Linked DNA regions of Homo sapiens. The protein of the gene in region 3 interacts with the protein of the main gene of each other region in a biochemical or structural test. Each region holds a gene or a part of one and is shown on either strand. Other genes may lie near its edges.

Region 1 (3,520 bases), on a different chromosome or scaffold from region 3:
GGGCTCCGCTCCACTTCAGCTCCGTGTGTCTATGGGTTCTGGGAGCTGCGCCTTGCCGGATGGGATCAGGCAGGCCAGAGGTGCAAGGCCAGGCCTGGACAAGAAAGCCAGGGGGCAGAAGAGTCCAGGCTGCCTTTTCCCACAGCTTCAGGCCAAACTTCAGCCATGGGTAAGAAAACCCACCTCCTCTGGGCACGGTGGCTCGCTCCTGTAATCCCAGCACTTTGGGAGGCCGAGGCAGGTAGATCACAAGGTCAGGAGTTGAGGACCAGCCTGGCCAAGATGGTGAAACCTCGTCTCTACTAAAAACGCAAAAATTAGCCGGGCATGCTGGCAGGCACCTGTAATCCCAGCTATTTGGGAGGCTGAGGCAGAGAACTGCTTGAACCCGGGAGGCAAAGGTTGCAGTGAGCCAAAACTGTGCGACTGCACTCCAGCCTGGGCAACAAAGAGCAAGACTCCATCTCAAAAAAACAAAACAAAACAAAAAAAACCCACCTCCCTCCAAAGCAGGCAGCCAACAACTGCCATCATGAGGGAGGAGAGACTCCAGCCTGCCCATTTCACAGATGAGCACACAGACTTGGAGGGGGTGGATGACCTGCTTGAAGTGCCCAGTGTCAGTGCCTGAGTCCCGGCAACTCCAGGGCTGATGGTGGACAGCAGGGCCTGAGGGGGCCCCATGACAGAGGGTGCAGGGAGGAGTCAGCAACGTTGCCCCGGTGACAACACAGGAGCCGTTGCCTGGAGCTTGAGCTCAGATTCCCTACAGGAGCCTGGCGAGAAACTCCGAAGAAGGGACAAAAGAGGGGACAGGAGCAGCTGGGCGGGAACCAGGGTCGTCAAGGAGATGGGGCTGGCCTGGCAGGGGGAGGGGCAGCTTCTAGTGACCAGGGCTGGCCCTCTCCAGCCTCAGTTTCCCAACCCAAGGGGCTCCAGGCAGTGGCAGTCAGGGGAAAAAGGGAAGAGGACCCCGGGCTCCAGCCTCCTTTCTGAGGCTCAGTCTCCTCATCTGCACTTCAGGTTCTTTTTGAGCCTGAGGACAAGTGCACTGGAGACCCCAACACAGGAGGGACACCTGAAGGCTGCAGGGACACATGTGCGCACGCAGCGCAGCACCCACAGGAGTGGGAGCAGCAGGCCAGGCAGCGGAGCATGTGGGGCCCAGAGCACTGCCACACTCACCAACAGAGGCCGCTGGGGCCATGGGAGAGAAGGGGACATCTCAGCCCATCCACACTCCCCAGAGTAGGCAAAGAGCTCACAAACCACAGGCTCAGAGTCCCATCCCTGCCTGATCAGTGCCCCCAGTCCTGGGGTGAGGAGACCCCCATCCCACACCCTCCCCTTTCCCAGCACTGACACATTTTCTGGGAACTGATGTCTGAAACCAGGATACTGAAACCCAGAAGGCCACACAGGAGGGGTAGGGGTCAGCACCCCTCACCAAGCCGCCATCAGCCAGACCCTGGCACCTCGGCTTCCCCAAGAGCAGTTGGGGTGGGATTCTCCAGGGCTGGCAAGGAGACACTGAGCTGCCGGCCTGCCCCCACCCCCACCCCAGGCCTGCAGGGAAAATGCCCGCTTTGTGTGGCTCACACAGCCCATTGTGCAGCAGCCAGTATCCAGGTGGGGGCCGTGCTGTGCTCACCATGCCGAGCCTGGCACTGCCCCCAGGCCCCTTTGCTGAACACATGTGTCTTCACATTCACACATGTGTGCATCAGCTCACCAGGGCCCCCAGCCCACCTGCCACCCTCCATGGGTATCATAGCCCAGCCTTCTGCCTGGCCTCCCCAGAGTTGCTGGGACGATGGCAGGGTCGCCTAGGTAACTGGCTGGCTGACACGTAGCAAGGGACAGCTGTGCTACTGCAAACTGACCCCCCACCACCCGTCTCTCAGCAAAAGGACCCCATCATCTCTGCACAGTTGTCTCAGGTACAGAAGCCACGCCAACCTCCGCAGAAGCCCCCACTACTGCCCATCAGAGCACCTCTGTCCTCCTCTCGAGCTGGACACTGCCAAGACTGGGACCCCAGAGCACAGGGAACTACAGGCAGGTGGTCCTGAACAGACCCTGAACACCTGTCCTGCAAAGGATACATCTTGACAGCCCCAGACCTGGTGCCGATGGCCATGATGCGAAGTTCCGGGTCGAAGGCCAGGGCGCTGGGCTGATTGGGGAAGCCATGCTCCACAGTCTGCAAGGAGGGGAGGGCTGCTGGGGGTAAGCACTCCCAGGCACCTCTGCCATGGCCCACCCTGAGGCCCACCCCAAGGCAGCCTCCAGGGTCTGCAGCTGACACACTGGGGGTAGGAGGCAGGTCTACTTGCTCTGTGCCTCAGCGTCCTCAACTGTGAAATGGGTTATCATGCCTCCAGTTGGTGGGGAGGTGGCTAAACCCCTAGCCTCCACCATGACTGTACCGCGTGCATAGTCCACAGAGGCCCGCCCTTTGCCAAGCCCCTGTGCCCCTCAATGCACACAGGCTCATGTGGGCCCCACTGCATGGAGGCTCCAGCAACAAACAGGTGAAGCAAGGCTCACAGAGGTGCAGGCACTGATGAGGCCCCACCTGCTCCATGAAGGGCTCTGCACCCCATTTTTAGAGGCACAGACTAAAGCTTGCGGAGGAGTCCCGCAAGATGACCATGACACTCCCCAAACACAGGCCTGAGTGGAGGTCAGAGGTCAAGGGACAACATCCAGGATCAGCTAGGCAGAGGCTTTTGACTCCTCCCAGACACAGGGAGACAGAGGCCCAGAGAGGGGTAGCTTTCTGCCTGGACCCCGAAGGCATCCTCCCACCTCCCCACCTGCCAACAGCTGGGCAACATGACTCCCATAACCATCAGGGGCGGAGATGGTGTTAAGGGGGTCTGTGTGCCCAGAGTGTCGATGAAACAGCTCCCCACCCGCTCCCCTGCCCCTTTCACAGCACACCCTTTCTGCACCAGTCTCCTGTCTTTGGCCTGGCTGTGCCCTCCCTGGGAAGCCTGCACAGCTGAGCTCCAGCCCCATCCTGAACACCAGTGCAGGACACCCACGTGGGCCACTGGTAACTCCTTTTATCTTGTTGTTGTTATTTATTTTTCACTTTTACCACTGGTAATTCCTGACCCACTGCCTCAGGAAGATGCACATTTGTAAGAAACCCCAGTTCCCAGCCTGTAACGCGAACCTCCCTCCCTGCCTGCCTCTGCCCATCCAGGTGGGGACTGAGCCCTCTGGGCAGCTGGTTTGGTCACGGCCTAGCTGTCTGGCCTTGGGCAAGTCACAGTACTCTCCAAGACTCAGTACTCTCCAAGCTTCAGTCTCTCATCTGGGCCCTTGGGACAGTAAGCCCACCTAAGGACAGAGTTGGCGATTTGGCTGGGGCTTCTCTCTCCCACCAATAATACCACGCCCTTGCTGCACCTGACCTTGTCTAGCCAGTCCCTCGCTACAACCAGGGTCCAGAGACGGGACACTGCATCGCAAATCCCCACAGCCTTCCCATTTTACAAACGAGGAAAGG
Region 2 (3,520 bases), on a different chromosome or scaffold from region 3:
AACTGATCTTCAAAAATGTCAGTGAAAATAAAATTCAGAGGCATCCATTTTAAATTAATATATTTGAAATTTTTTTAATTAAAAAAACAAAATTTCTAAAAATTAAAGTAACCAAATCTATAATCTGAAAACAAATGTTAGCCATGCACCACAGTGTCCTTACTTTGTCTATTCTTAATGGAAGCTAATTCTTCTAGAACGGTCTGGTCTGTAGATCTGGCAAAGGCCTCTGCTGTGGCACAGTACCCATGGTGGACTAAATAAGATGAAACCATTCTTAAAATAAAAAGAAGAAACATACATCTTTTAGTGAAGAGAATACATGCTTCATACTACAATTTATATAAACAAAATCTATTCTGGTGTTATAAAAACGAACCTATTTCCTTGAAACAAGGCGTTAAGAACCTCACCTTTAAAGTAAGCTTTTGAAAAACATCATTTTGTTCTATTCATGTACTATTTTCGAAAAGATAACTGCAAATGCTATGTTGAGACTACTCTCCCTAAAATAAATATTACTTGAGAATCAAGGACATTAAATGACCTTTTCTTTGATTCTTGGACTCTCATTACCCCCAGGTCCCTTCCTATCTTATTATTCAGCCCTACTAACCATAATTTCTATTTTGACTTTATCATATGACTTATTCCAGTATTGCTGGCATTCTGTAAAATAACCAACTTTAAAATAAAAGATTAACTCTTAATGTTCCAGAGTTCAACCATCTTCTTTACACACCGGTTAAATGAAGTGGGATCACAAAGTATGTACAGAATACTAAGGTGAATCCAGAGAGACAATCTTCCAGAACATGTCTATAAGTGTACTACTAATTAAAGGAGGAATCAGCCTTCTAATCTAAATCAATTACTATGGTTTTACCCAAGAGATTTATCAAATATGGTTTACATGTAAGTGACACATTTCCAAGACAATAATCTTTTAAAAACGTACCAGGTAGTCAAAACATATACTTACATCTACCCACAAGATGTGGTTAGAAAAACTGGTGATGCAACAATATTAACCCAAATATCTGTTATCTCCAAACAGTCAATTTTTAAACTTGCCTCCACCTGACACTACTAAGGGCCAGTTAGAAAATCGTGGGAAGCAGTGGTTCACCACAGGAGGAGACTGAGGCAAAGAGCGGAGGGAGAAAAGGGAGGAAAATGTCTAAGAAACAGATCTGCATCTTATTTTACCCAATTGTTCAAATTAATTTAAGGGGGAGGGGACCTTTTAGAATGGACTTCTCAAGAGTTCATGGTGAACATCAAGTCAGTGAAGAAGTGGGTGGAAGGATCCTGGTTATAAGGTTAAGATAAATGTTTTCTACTATCTTGCCATGATACTCAGTGGTAACCATTTTCAGAGCATTAAAACAGTGTGGCCCCAGAACAACCCATTCTAGCTTCACTTCGTGGTGACTATAGGATTCTGCATCAGGGTTGTCTATTCTCAACTGGGCTGGACAAAAAAACTAGTGTCCAATCTCTGTAATACAGATGATAATAGCTCCAGGGACGAAGTGTGATTTCAGAGTCATCATCATGTCTCCCAATCACTTCCTTTTCTAAAAAATACCCCCAACATTTTATTACAATTTTAAAGTTAAGAATATTCAAAGCAATTATAAGGACATTAAAGATGAAATGTGTTGGACCAACTGTATCTGAAAGTCTGCTATTTTCTTGACCTGGATTATAATAGTGAAGAGGACTTTTTAAATTTAATGGTATTTATTTAAATTTTAAGTCCATACTTAACTACTGCTGATAGTTCAGATATTAAGAGCTTGGACATAGCCAAGTTCATGACCAAAAACCACAGATCCTGATTATAAGATCTAGATTATCTCTCAACTTTATCTTTTCCATTAACATTATTAAAAGTTAAATTGTATAACCTACAGAAATCATTAAATCCTATTACTAAGAATAGCAAATGAATTAACCTAGCCTAGGTGACCTAACATCATTTTATTTCCTTCATCAAATTAATTCAGACTGAAATACAATTCTGTACGTGTGTCAAACAATTGTTTTTAATTTGTTTAAATAGTGGAGTAAATTACTTTTCGTTGAGAGATTAAAATCAATAATATAATAGATATGTCAGTATATAAATTAGTGGATTAAAAAGCTTCTGTGGATACCAACAGAATAAATGTCTTATAAAAAACAGATTCTGAATAGCATCAATTGAAATTTCTTCACTCTTACTTTTGTATCATGGTCTGCCATTCTCCTTCTCGATCTCCGATAGGAAATCGATCTATCTGTGCCTGGATTTTGGTTCTCCACTCCCGCATATAGTCTTCTATATCAAACACGAAAGGATGTTGCCCAAAATTGGCATCGACCACTTCTCCTGGTGTTTGAAGCCCCACAGTAGGATACAAATTTGGCTGTAAGATAGCATATTTCATTAAACATCTATCCATTTTATGTTAGATTTAATAATTCTTTTAATGTTACATTTAAAAGAATAGAACTATAAATTTACTTCATATTTTAAAATCCCAATCAAAATATTAGAAGGCTAAAACAAATGATCTAAAATACATTATATGTTAGATGAAAAAATATCACTTCCTGCAATGTAATCATCAAGAAAAAACAAAGAGACCCAAGATCTCTGTTTTATTTATTCAGGGACTACGTTGTATTATACCACGTGGTATTATGCTACTAATATATGTGCATGTAATTCTTGTTCTAAGATTATGTCATATAGTAGTTACAGAAATTCAACTATAAACACATAACTCAGGTTTATCCCACATTTTATATATGATACATTTCTATAAACTGCATGTTAAAGCTAGTTATCATAAAAGTATGATCTCAGCTAGTCTGGCATTTAATAGCTTAAATTTACTGTTTTCATTCTGTATATTTGGGATGCCTAACTTTACAAAGGGAAGGGGATAAGACCATAACTATAAGCAAAACACAGTGCCAGGAAGAGTGGAGATTCTCTATATTAAAAAAAAAACACAAAACCTCAAATATATGTATTTCAAGGGAGGAAAAGGATGAATCTGAATATACCCAAACTCAGAAATGCATTCAGGTACACTCCATGGTTTCAAGGTTAATCAAGATGAAAAGGTGATAACTTCAAGTAAACAAAAAATACAGGGGTCATTCTTTTGGCTATGTCACTAATTGGTTGTTACATCTAAAGGCAGAATGAGTTTCTGAGTGGCTACTAAATGCCAGGGTTTAATCATAATTCTGTGAGGCCACTATTATTATTTCTACTTCAAAGACAGAGAAAATGAGGATTCAAGGTTAAATAACTTGCTCATGGTCGTTCTGCTAACAAATGGCAGAGATGGAATTGGAACACAAGTTTGTCTGATACCACATCCAAAACTGATTTTTCCTCTTGCAACTCCAAATCCTACCATATTTTCATTTTCTGTATTTATGTCTTATATCTTTAATAGTTATAACAAGTATTTTTCAGTACAAAACAAGGTAAAGATCAAGAGCGGATAATTTCTGT
Region 3 (2,930 bases):
ATCCCAGCACTTTGGGAGGCTGAAGCAGGCAGATCACGAGGTCAGGAGATGGAGACCATCCTGGCTAACACGGTGAAACCCCGTCTCTACTAAAAATACAAAAAATTAGCCGGGCGTGGTGGCAGGTGCCTGTAGTCCCAGCTACTCGGGAGGCTGAGGCAGGAGAATGGCATGAACCCGGGAGGCGGAGCTTGCAGTGAGCCGAGATCGTGCCACTGCACTGCAGCCTGGGCAACAGAGCGAGACTCCGTCTCAAAAATAAATAAATAAATAAATAAAAATAAAAATGCCTTCAGGCTGTGAGGATGAGTGGGTGGGGCAGCCAGGGCAGAGTCAGGGAGTCTCTGGGGGCCCTGATCAGGTGTGCCTGCTGTCCACCCCCCACAGCTATGAGGTGTCAGGTCGCATTGAGGCCATTGAGGGCTCAAGAGAGGACATCGTGGTTCCTGTCTACCTGCGGGAGCGCACCCCTGCCCGTGACTACAACAACTCCTACTACGGCCTGATGCTTTTTGGACACCCCCTCCTGGTATCAGTGCCCCGGGACCGCTTCACCTGGGAGGGCCTGTATAACGTCCTGATGTACCGGCTCTCGTAAGTGTCCTCTTCCCCGGGGGTGGGGGGCGGAGGGGTCTGAACTCCGACTTGGGTGTTTAGCTGCTTATTTGACACCTCCCCTGTAACAAACAAAAGACAGTCCAAACTTAACATGGCCATAGAAGAACTTGTAGGGTTTTTTCTTTCTCTAGACCTCTGGCTTTGCTACTGCCTGTCTTGGGTGCTAGGGATACAGAGGTGAACAAGATGCACAAAACAGACAACTTCATCTTGTCTTCAGTTGTCTCTCCTGGAGACTGTTGTCCCTCCTGGGAGAGTCTTGGTTTTTTTGTCTTTTTGCTGACAAATTTTCATTTTGCCTAAAATCTAGAGTCTTTACTGTGGCACACAAAGCATTGTGTTATCAGAATTCTCCCCCCTCATTTTGCATTCAAAAGTCATTCCCCAGAGGCTTTCCCTGATGGGAAGTTACAGCCGGTATGTGTCTTGTCTAGCAGTGGCTTATTAGAGTAAAAGTCCACGCTCCATACCTTTTTTTTTTTTTTTTTTTGAGATGGAGTCTTGCTCTGTTGCCCAGGCTGGAGTGTAGTGACATGATCTTGGCTCACTGCAACCTCCATCTCCCGGATTCAAGCGATTCTCCTGCCTCAGCCTCCCAAATAGCTGCAATTACAGCCGCGCGCCACCACGCCCAGCTAATCACACTCCACACCTCTGACTGGGACACAAGTTCCTTCATTCTCAGGCCACTGCTGACAGCCTTGGCCTCTTCATGCATTTACGCGTCACCCCTTCAGCCCTCTCACACCTCAGATTCAGAACGGTTTACATGTGGATCTACCAATGGCTTCCCATTATCTTAAGTAAAATCCCGGGCTCTATCCCCACTGTCCTTGTACCCGTCTTGGGAGTCTCCTCTGCTCTGTTGCAGACGCTACGTGACCAAACCCAACTCAGATGATGAGGACGATGGGGATGAGAAAGGTGAGGGGGCTAACAGTCAGTGGGCGGGGGCTCTGGGTTAGGTCTGACCCACGTAGGGTTCGTCTAGGTGTGCATTGCAGCTTAGCACTTGAGGCTCACACCTTCCCATCTCTGACATCCTCCTGTCCTAGAAGATGACGAGGAGGATAAAGATGACGTCCCTGGGCCCTCAACTGGGGGCAGCCTCCGAGACCCTGAGCCAGAGCAGGCTGGGCCCAGCTCTGGAGTCACGAACAGGTGCCCGTTCCTCCTGGACAATTGCCTTGGCACATCTCAGTGGCCCCCAAGGCGACGACGCAAGCAGCTGTTCACCCTGCAGACGGTGAACTCCAATGGGACCAGCGACCGCACAACCTCCCCTGAAGAAGTCCATGGTATTTCCTTTGGCTATCAGCGAGGGCTGGGGAGGCTGGAGGGGAGATTTCCTGGCAGCAGGATCCATGACCACCTCTCCCTCACCCCCAGCCCAGCCGTACATTGCTATCGACTGGGAGCCAGAGATGAAGAAGCGTTACTATGACGAGGTAGAGGCTGAGGTAAATGAGATCCCAGGGATGGGGGGTACTTCCAGCTCTTGCCCCTCAACTCTTCGTACATCCTCCCCACAACTCCTCTAGCTGGGAACAGAGCCAAGAGATCCAGGTCAAGCTTGGCCTTGGGGCCTGAACACCTACTGAGAGCTCCAGGGCCTGAGGTTCCTAGCTTCAAAGTCGGTGCTCTGACCCACTCAGTGTGTGTCTCCCCCGCTGGGCCCCCACTCCCCATTTCTCCATCTGTCCTCACAGCCGGCCATCTGGTTGTCTGTTCACCCAATCCTAGGGCTACGTGAAGCATGACTGCGTCGGGTACGTGATGAAGAAGGCTCCCGTGCGGCTGCAGGAGTGCATTGAGCTCTTCACCACTGTGGAGACCCTGGAGAAGGAAAACCCCTGGTGAGGGGCCAGAGCGGGGCCTGTGTGTGGGGGTTTCATTGGATGGAACTACTATATTTAGCTTTTTTTTTTTTTTTTTGAGACAGAGTCTGGCTCTGTCAACCCAGGCTGAAGTGCAGTGGTACAATCTCGGCTCAGTGCAACCTCTGCCTCCCAGGATCAAGCTGTTCTCCTGCCTAAGTCTCCTGAGTAGCTGGGATTATAGGCACCCACTACCATGCCTGGCTAATTTTTATATTTTTAGTAGAAACAGGTTTTGCCACGTTGGCCAGGCTGGTCTCGAACTCCTGACTAAAGATGATCCACCCGCCTTGGCCTTCCAAAGTGCTGGGATTACAGGCGTGAGCCACCACACCTGGCCTATATTTAGCTCTTTAAGTATACCTTCCTCCTCCCTCCTCCACACTCAAACCCTTCTTGCCAACCTGGCCACCAATCTCCTGAGCAGACTCCTAC
Region 4 (3,520 bases), on a different chromosome or scaffold from region 3:
TAATCTTTCTCTTGCCTTTTAAAACAGCAAAAAAGAAGAATAAGAAGGGGAAGACTATCTCCCTAACAGACTTTCTGGCTGAGGATGGGGGTACTGGTGGAGGAAGCACCTATGTTTCCAAACCAGTCAGCTGGGCTGATGAAACGGATGACCTGGAAGGAGATGGTAACTTTTCTTTTGTCATCGTGTTTGGAATGTTTATTATTTTCTAGACAAAACCTATTACATAATAATTCACATCGTTTGTAATCTGAAAAGAACTTACTCATTTTTTAGCACCTGAAATCTTACATATTTTATAGAATCTAAGGTTTAATCTGAGGTTTGGGCTGTCAGACTTTGCAGTGAAGACTGAAGTGGTCATTTAAGAGAGCTTTGCTAGTTCTTGTTCTTGCATTAACAGACTTCTTAAGTTACTATTCTTTTGGGCCTCATTTTCTTCATTTTAAAAGTAAGAACTAGATCATCTTTTAAAATTCCTTTTAGGTCTAAAATTCTATGGGGTCCTCATAAAGTGATGTTTCAGGCTGCTCGCGATGGCTTACACCTGTAATCCCAGCACTTTGGGAGGCCGAGGTGGGCAGATCACATGAGATGAGAAGTTCAAGACCAGCCTGGCCAACATGGTGAAAACCCATCTCTACTAAAAATACAAAAATTAGCTGGGCGTGGTGGCATGTGCCTGTAATTTCAGCTACTCGGGAGGCTGGGGCAGGAGAATTGCTTGAACCTGGGAGGCGGAGGGTGCAGTGAGCTGAGATCATGCCACTGCACTCCAGCGTGGGAGACAGAGCGAGACTCCATCTCAAAAAAAAAAAAAAAGTGATGTTTCAGTGTAATCTGTAAGCTATGTTTACTCAGAGCCAAGGAATAATTAGTTCCAGGTGTCATTAGTATAAAATCAGAGTGTCCTTGGGTAAACGAAAATGGTCTGAGGAAAAGGAGTGAGAACAGTAATTATGGTGGGAAAATAAAGAAGAGTCAATTGGACAAGTTCTGTGCCTTCAGGGAGTCGCCAGGAATAATAAGGAGCTATGTTTTATAATGACCGGGTATGACATAAATCTCATTACCATTGTTTTTTTCCTGAAAATCGTTTATTGCATGCTGAAAGAATATTTTTTCCTATGACCTGTTTTCATAATTCCTAAAAACAGGAAATTTTTTTTGAGACAGAGTCTCTATTGCCCAGGCTGGGGTGCAAGTGGCGCACTCTCTGCTCACTGCAACATCTGCTCCCGGGGTTCAAGCGATTCTCCTGCCTCAGCCGCCTGAGTAGTTGGGATTACAGGTGCCCGCCACCGCGCCCAGCAAATTTTGTATTTTTAGTAGAATCAGGGTTTTACCATTTTGGCCAGGCTGGTCTTGAACTCCTGACCTCATGACCCACCTGCCTCAGCCTCCCAAAGTGCTGGGATTACAGGCATGAGCCACTGCACCCGGCCAAAACAGGAAATTTTATATAGGTCGTACTTCCCATAGGTGTTGGTATCTGAAGTACAAATTCATGGACAGTGCTGTAGGAAAAGATTTTTGTTGTGATATTTTTGTTTGTTTGTTTTCAGATGGAGTCTCACTCTGTCGCCCAGGTTGTAGTGCAGTGGCACAATATCTTGGCCCACTGCAACTGCCGCCTCCCGGTTCAATAGATTGTCCTGTCTCAGCCTCCCAAGTAGATGGGATTACTGGCACATGCCACCACACCTGGCTAATTTTTGTATTTTTAGTAGAGACAGGGTTTCACCATAATGGTCAGGCTGGTCTCAAACCTGACCTCAGGTGATCACCCACCTTGGCCTCCCGAAGTGTTGGGATTATAGGTGTGAGCCACCGAGCCAGGCCTGTTGTTGTTTTTAAGGGAGGATAGACCATGCAGAAAAATACTCAACTTCAAACTCACCACTAGGAATACAAGAGTTGTCAGTAGTGGTTAAATATACCTGGAGTAAGAGGGACCCAGGTTTGAATCCTAGCTTTACCGTCTGTGACCTTGGGCAAATTACTGTCTGAAATCTGAGTTTGCTTTTCTGTAGAATGGGGGACAACCTCACAGGACTGTTAAAAAGATAAGATGGGATATAATGAATATAAAGTAGCTGGCACACAGTAATATTCCATAAAGAGTTGTATTTATGGAATAATATTTCTTTGCTTACATAAAGATTAAGGTGTCATAATTAATCTCAGAAGCTTCTCTTCGTAAAGTGCCCTTATTACTGAACCCCCACTTTTTTTGGTCTGGTTTTCTTGTATAGCATGTTTAATATTTGGCAATTAACATGGGTCCTCTTGTTCTATGACAGTAGTGAGAGAAGTTTCTTCTAATTTCTTACATTCATTCCTCTATCCTAGTTTCGACCACTTGGCACAGTAACGATGACGATGTGTATAGGGCGCCTCCAATTGACCGTTCCATCCTTCCCACTGCTCCACGGGCTGCTCGGGAACCCAATATCGACCGGAGCCGTCTTCCCAAATCGCCACCCTACACTGCTTTTCTAGGAAACCTACCCTATGATGTTACAGAAGAGTCAATTAAGGAATTCTTTCGAGGATTAAATGTAAGTGTAAAAGTTGTAATAATTAACTAGATATTGAGGATAATGTCTAAAAAAGACTAATTGTGGAATGGGCAGTTGCTGTTGAAAAAACAACTAGAAATATAATTTAAGGCCGGGAATGGTGGCTCACGCCTGTAATCCCAGCACTCTGGGAGTCTGAGGCGGGTGGATCATTTGAGGTCAGGAATTCGAGTCCAGCCTGGCTAACGTGGTGAGACCCTGTCTCTACTAAGAATACAAAAATTAGCTGGGCGTGGTGGTACACGTCTGTAATCCCAGCTACTTGGGAGGCTGAGGTAGGAGAATTGCTTGAACCTGGAAGACGGAGGTTGTGGTGAGCCGAGATTGCGCCATTGCACTCCAGCCTGGGCAACAAGAGTGAAACACCATCTCAAAGAAAAAAAATAAAATCAAAATTATATATATATATATTTTTTTTTTTTCTTTTTTTTTTTTTTTTTTTTTTTTGAGACAGAGTCTCATTCTGTCATCCAGGCTGGAGTACAGTGGATTACATGCCCAGCTAATTTTTTGTATTTAGTAGAGATAGGGTTGCACTATGTTGGTCAGGCTGGTCTTGAACTCCTGACCTCAGAGGATCCACCTGCTTCGGCCTCCCAAAGTGCTGGGACTACAGGCATGAGCCACTGCACCTGGCCTGAATTAATCTTTTTTTTTTTTTTTTTAGAGTTAAATTCATACAGTTCAAAATTCAGAAGGTATAATAGGGCATTTAGTAAAGTTTCTACTATCCCTCTGCATCAGTTTTCCTCCTGAGACAACCATGTTCTTGTGTATTCAGAAAAATTCATGCACATACAGTAATGCTTTTGTAGTCCTCTCAAAAAATGACAAATGAAGAAGAATGCTGGGAAACTTTGTTGTTGATTCTTATTCCTTCAGATCAGTGCAGTGCGTTTACCACGTGAACCCAGCAATCCAGAGAGGTTGAAAGGTTT
Region 5 (3,520 bases), on a different chromosome or scaffold from region 3:
GGGCAGGGGAGAAAACTGGATAGGAAGGTGCTTTATATCTTCATTAGTTGAACTGATAGAATTTCCAGACTGGGTTTATTTTATTTTATTTTTTTTTCTTTTCTGAGACAGAGTCTTGCTCTATTTGCCCAGGCTGGAGTGCAATGGCGCTATCTCGGCTCACTGCAGCCTCCACTTCCCGGGTTCAAGCGATTCTCCTGCCTCAGCCTCCCGAGTAGCTGGGATTACAGGCACCCGCCACCAGGCCCGGCTAATTTTTGTATTTTTAGTAGAGACGGGGTTTCTCCATGTTGGTCAGGCTGGTCCGGAACTTCCAAACTTGGGTGATCTGCCTGCCTTGGCCTCTCAAAATACAGGTGTGAGCCACCGCACCCAGCCAGGTTTATTCTTTTTTGAAAGTACAGTACTCTGTTAAAATTCCTGTGTAAACTGGGACTTTTCTTTTCACTTTCTTGTGTTTCAAGAACAGTAGGTGTTCCAGGGCTTTTGTCCTGCTGGGTACAAGCAAGTAGGATTTTGAGAAGGTGTGAGGAGGAGGTCAGAAAAATTGGTGGAAATAGGAAAGAGAAAGAAATATGGCCCCGATTTTGGGGAGAGAAAGTCTGGGGAAAGAGCAAAGGCAATTAAAGAGGATTTTGAGGAAGAGACTTCTGTAAAATATGTCTTAGCAACACTTTTTGGAGTTGAAAATATTTCTTTTTAGTGTGTTATTTTTTCTAAGAGGTGCCTCAAGATGGATAATGGAAGATTTGGAGTACGATTGGGTTGACAATCCAAGGAGATTCGGTGACATCCAGATTACCCTGAAATAAAAAAAAAAAAAAATTCTGGAAAATGAGAGAAGTTTAGATTCTTAGAAAATCTTCTGATAGTTTCTATTTGTGAATTTATAGACTTTAATTTATTACACAAAGTTTTTAAACATTGGTGCATATCAGTTTTCCTCATTTTATAGTAAGGAAACTGAGGCATAGGCCATATGATAGCCAAAGATCACATAGTGGTAGTGTCTTCTGACTTAATTCAGCAGGCTTCATTGCACAGGTTCTTCATTGCATTTACTAGTTGTGTTTATAATGTTCCTCTTTGTGGTATGTCAAAAGTGAATTCAGATTCCTTTGGCCATACTCACTCTGTGACCTGGAGTAAATTCCTTAATCTCTAATGTTTTCTATAACATGAGGGTTACATTAAATAAGTACGTAAAGTACAGTACTCTCAAAATATCCTGGCGTATTAAGCAATTAGCTAGTTCACAGAAATTCAGCTTGTCTTGTCATTGCTAAGGAACCAATCATTCAGGTTTAACCTCGTATACCTAGAGACTTAATAATTGCAGTTAAACTCGAGGTGCTGTATTTTTACAACTGTAGTATCATAGTGTGTATTTTTTTTTAAAACTAATTGATCCCGTTTAGAGAGATGTGCCTTTCAAGGTACGTTACAGAGTGACTATGCGTTAGTAAATATAGGTATTTCCATAGTTTATTTAATTAGAGATTAAAAGATGAGACTAAATGATACATTTATGGACAAAGTTGAATATCTGCCACCTAACTTAAAAAAGATCCTGTTTAAGGCCGGGCACAGTGGCTCATGCCTGTAATCCCAGCACTTTGGGAGGCCGAGGCAGGTGGATCACGATGTCAGGAGCAGGAGACCAGCCTGGCCAATATGGTGAAACCCAGTTTCTACTAAAAATACAAAAATTAGCCAGGCATGGTGGTGCACACCTCTAGTCCCAGCTATTCAGGAGGCTGAGGCAGGAGAATCTCTTGAACCTGGGAGGTGGAGGTTGCAGTGAGCCAAGATCATACCACTGCACTCCAGCCTGGGCGACACAGTGAGATTCCGTCTCAAAAAAAAAAAAAAAAGATTCTGTTTAAATATCTCAGAGGAATATAATCAAAGCCTATTGGTAAGAGGGGAGTTTTTGGGCGGAGGGTGTCTTTTTTGTTTGTTTTTTTGTTTCACTGTTGATGATATCATTTGGGGCAGTAAATTGAAACTAAGGAAAAGTTTTCCTTCAGAGAATTTAGATTGCAAAAATGTTGGAATCTTCTCTGCTCTCTATAGCATTAAGAGTAGTAGAAAACTGTAATGCAATTTAAAAAATTCTCACTTTGTACTCTAATTCAAAATTTGAAATAATCACGCAGGCTTACTGTACAAGTTTCAGATTGGGACATCAGATTTTTATTGAGTAAAAGGTTTAAAATTTTTGAAAACCAAAGTGCTATATAGATAGTATATACTCAAATATTCATGATTATGAAAAATTATAGAAAAAATATCAATACTTATCTTGCTTTGTAATATATACTTACTATAAAGCAGCAACTTTTTTTTATTTTTTATTTTTTTGAGACGGAGTTTTGCTCTTGTGGCCCAGGCTGGAGTGCAGTGGTGCGATCTCGGCTCACTGCAACCTCTGCCTCCTGGGTTCAAGCTATTCTCCTGCCTCAGCCTCCCGAGTAGCTGGGATTACAGGTGCCGACTACCACACCCAGCTAATTTTTTGTATTTTTTTGGTAGAGACGGGGTTTCACCATGTTGGCCAGGCTGGTCTCAAACTCTTGACTTCAGGCGATACACCTGCCTCGGCCTCCCAAAGTGCTGGGATTACAGGCATGAGCCACCGTGCCCGGCCAGCAGCAACTATTTTTAAATAGCCCAAGAGTTTAGGCAAAGTTCTACCCTTTCTTCCATTTCCTCTAAGTTACTGAATCTTGTCAATCCTAATGAACACAGCAGACATTGGATAGGCCATAAAGCTTAAGGCAGCAGAAAAAAATTAGGAGTAAAGAGTTTCCTGGCCAGGCGGGGTGGCTCATGCCTGTAATCCCAGCACTTTGGGAGGCCAAGGTGGGCAGATCACCTGAGGTCAGGGGTTCGAGACCAGCCTGGCCAACATGGTGAAAACCCCGTCTCTATTAAAAATACAAAAATTAGCCGGGCCTGGTGTCAGGCACCTGTAATCCCAGCTACTCGGGAGGCTGAGGCAGGAGAATCACTTGAACCTGGGAGGCAGAGGTTGCAGTGAGCCAAGATCGCGCCATTGTTCTCCAGCCTGGGGGACAAGAGCAAGACTTCGTCTCAGAAAAAAAAAAAAAAGGAGTAAAGAGTTTCCTGTGAAAGAGAGTTGTCAGTATGTATTACATAATGTTATTTGACACTTCTTGTGTGAGCCTTCTAGAGGTAACACTGAGTAGCAGGAAAGATTTGTGCCTCAAATGCTTCTGTCCTAGACAGTAACGGTAGAAGTTATTAGCACAATATGCAGGTGCCAGCATTATAGGTCTGGCCAGCTTAGGAAATGAAACATAGCTACAGGGCGTATCTTGTGAGGTGGCTTCAAAATCATGGTCCAGTCTTAACTACTCTGTAGTCTTTAATTTAGAATTAAGTAAAACTAACATTAAAGAAAAAACAATTATGTAATACCAGTTTTATCACATCTGGAAGAAGTTAGTCTTTTGTCATAAAAGTGAAGCCATCCTAGGCGATTACGTAGAGCAAC

The links.
Region 1: the proteins of USP11 (region 3) and LLGL1 form a complex in vitro, tested with the Homo sapiens proteins (one study listed by BioGRID).
Region 2: the proteins of USP11 (region 3) and RANBP9 form a complex in vitro, tested with the Homo sapiens proteins (one study listed by BioGRID).
Region 4: of the proteins of USP11 (region 3) and EIF4B, one has a biochemical effect on the other in vitro, tested with the Homo sapiens proteins (one study listed by BioGRID).
Region 5: of the proteins of USP11 (region 3) and RPS6KB1, one has a biochemical effect on the other in vitro, tested with the Homo sapiens proteins (one study listed by BioGRID).

What each region holds. Positions count from the first base shown.
Region 1 is NC_000017.11:18,228,624-18,232,143, reverse strand, and holds part of LLGL1 (lethal(2) giant larvae protein homolog 1), read right to left. Parts: intron 2,204-3,520; coding exon 2,106-2,203; intron 1-2,105. UniProt on the Homo sapiens protein: Cortical cytoskeleton protein found in a complex involved in maintaining cell polarity and epithelial integrity. Involved in the regulation of mitotic spindle orientation, proliferation, differentiation and tissue organization of neuroepithelial cells.
Region 2 is NC_000006.12:13,642,316-13,645,835, forward strand, and holds part of RANBP9 (ran-binding protein 9), read right to left. Parts: intron 2,415-3,520; coding exon 2,230-2,414; intron 277-2,229; coding exon 164-276; intron 1-163. UniProt on the Homo sapiens protein: May act as scaffolding protein, and as adapter protein to couple membrane receptors to intracellular signaling pathways. Acts as a mediator of cell spreading and actin cytoskeleton rearrangement.
Region 3 is NC_000023.11:47,243,009-47,245,938, forward strand, and holds part of USP11 (ubiquitin carboxyl-terminal hydrolase 11), read left to right. Parts: intron 1-387; coding exon 388-594; intron 595-1,489; coding exon 1,490-1,542; intron 1,543-1,673; coding exon 1,674-1,916; intron 1,917-2,007; coding exon 2,008-2,078; intron 2,079-2,361; coding exon 2,362-2,474; intron 2,475-2,930.
Region 4 is NC_000012.12:53,016,446-53,019,965, forward strand, and holds part of EIF4B (eukaryotic translation initiation factor 4B), read left to right. Parts: intron 1-27; coding exon 28-165; intron 166-2,352; coding exon 2,353-2,561; intron 2,562-3,464; coding exon 3,465-3,520. UniProt on the Homo sapiens protein: Required for the binding of mRNA to ribosomes. Functions in close association with EIF4-F and EIF4-A. Binds near the 5'-terminal cap of mRNA in presence of EIF-4F and ATP.
Region 5 is NC_000017.11:59,896,107-59,899,626, forward strand, and holds part of RPS6KB1 (ribosomal protein S6 kinase beta-1), read left to right. Parts: intron 1-3,520. UniProt on the Homo sapiens protein: Serine/threonine-protein kinase that acts downstream of mTOR signaling in response to growth factors and nutrients to promote cell proliferation, cell growth and cell cycle progression.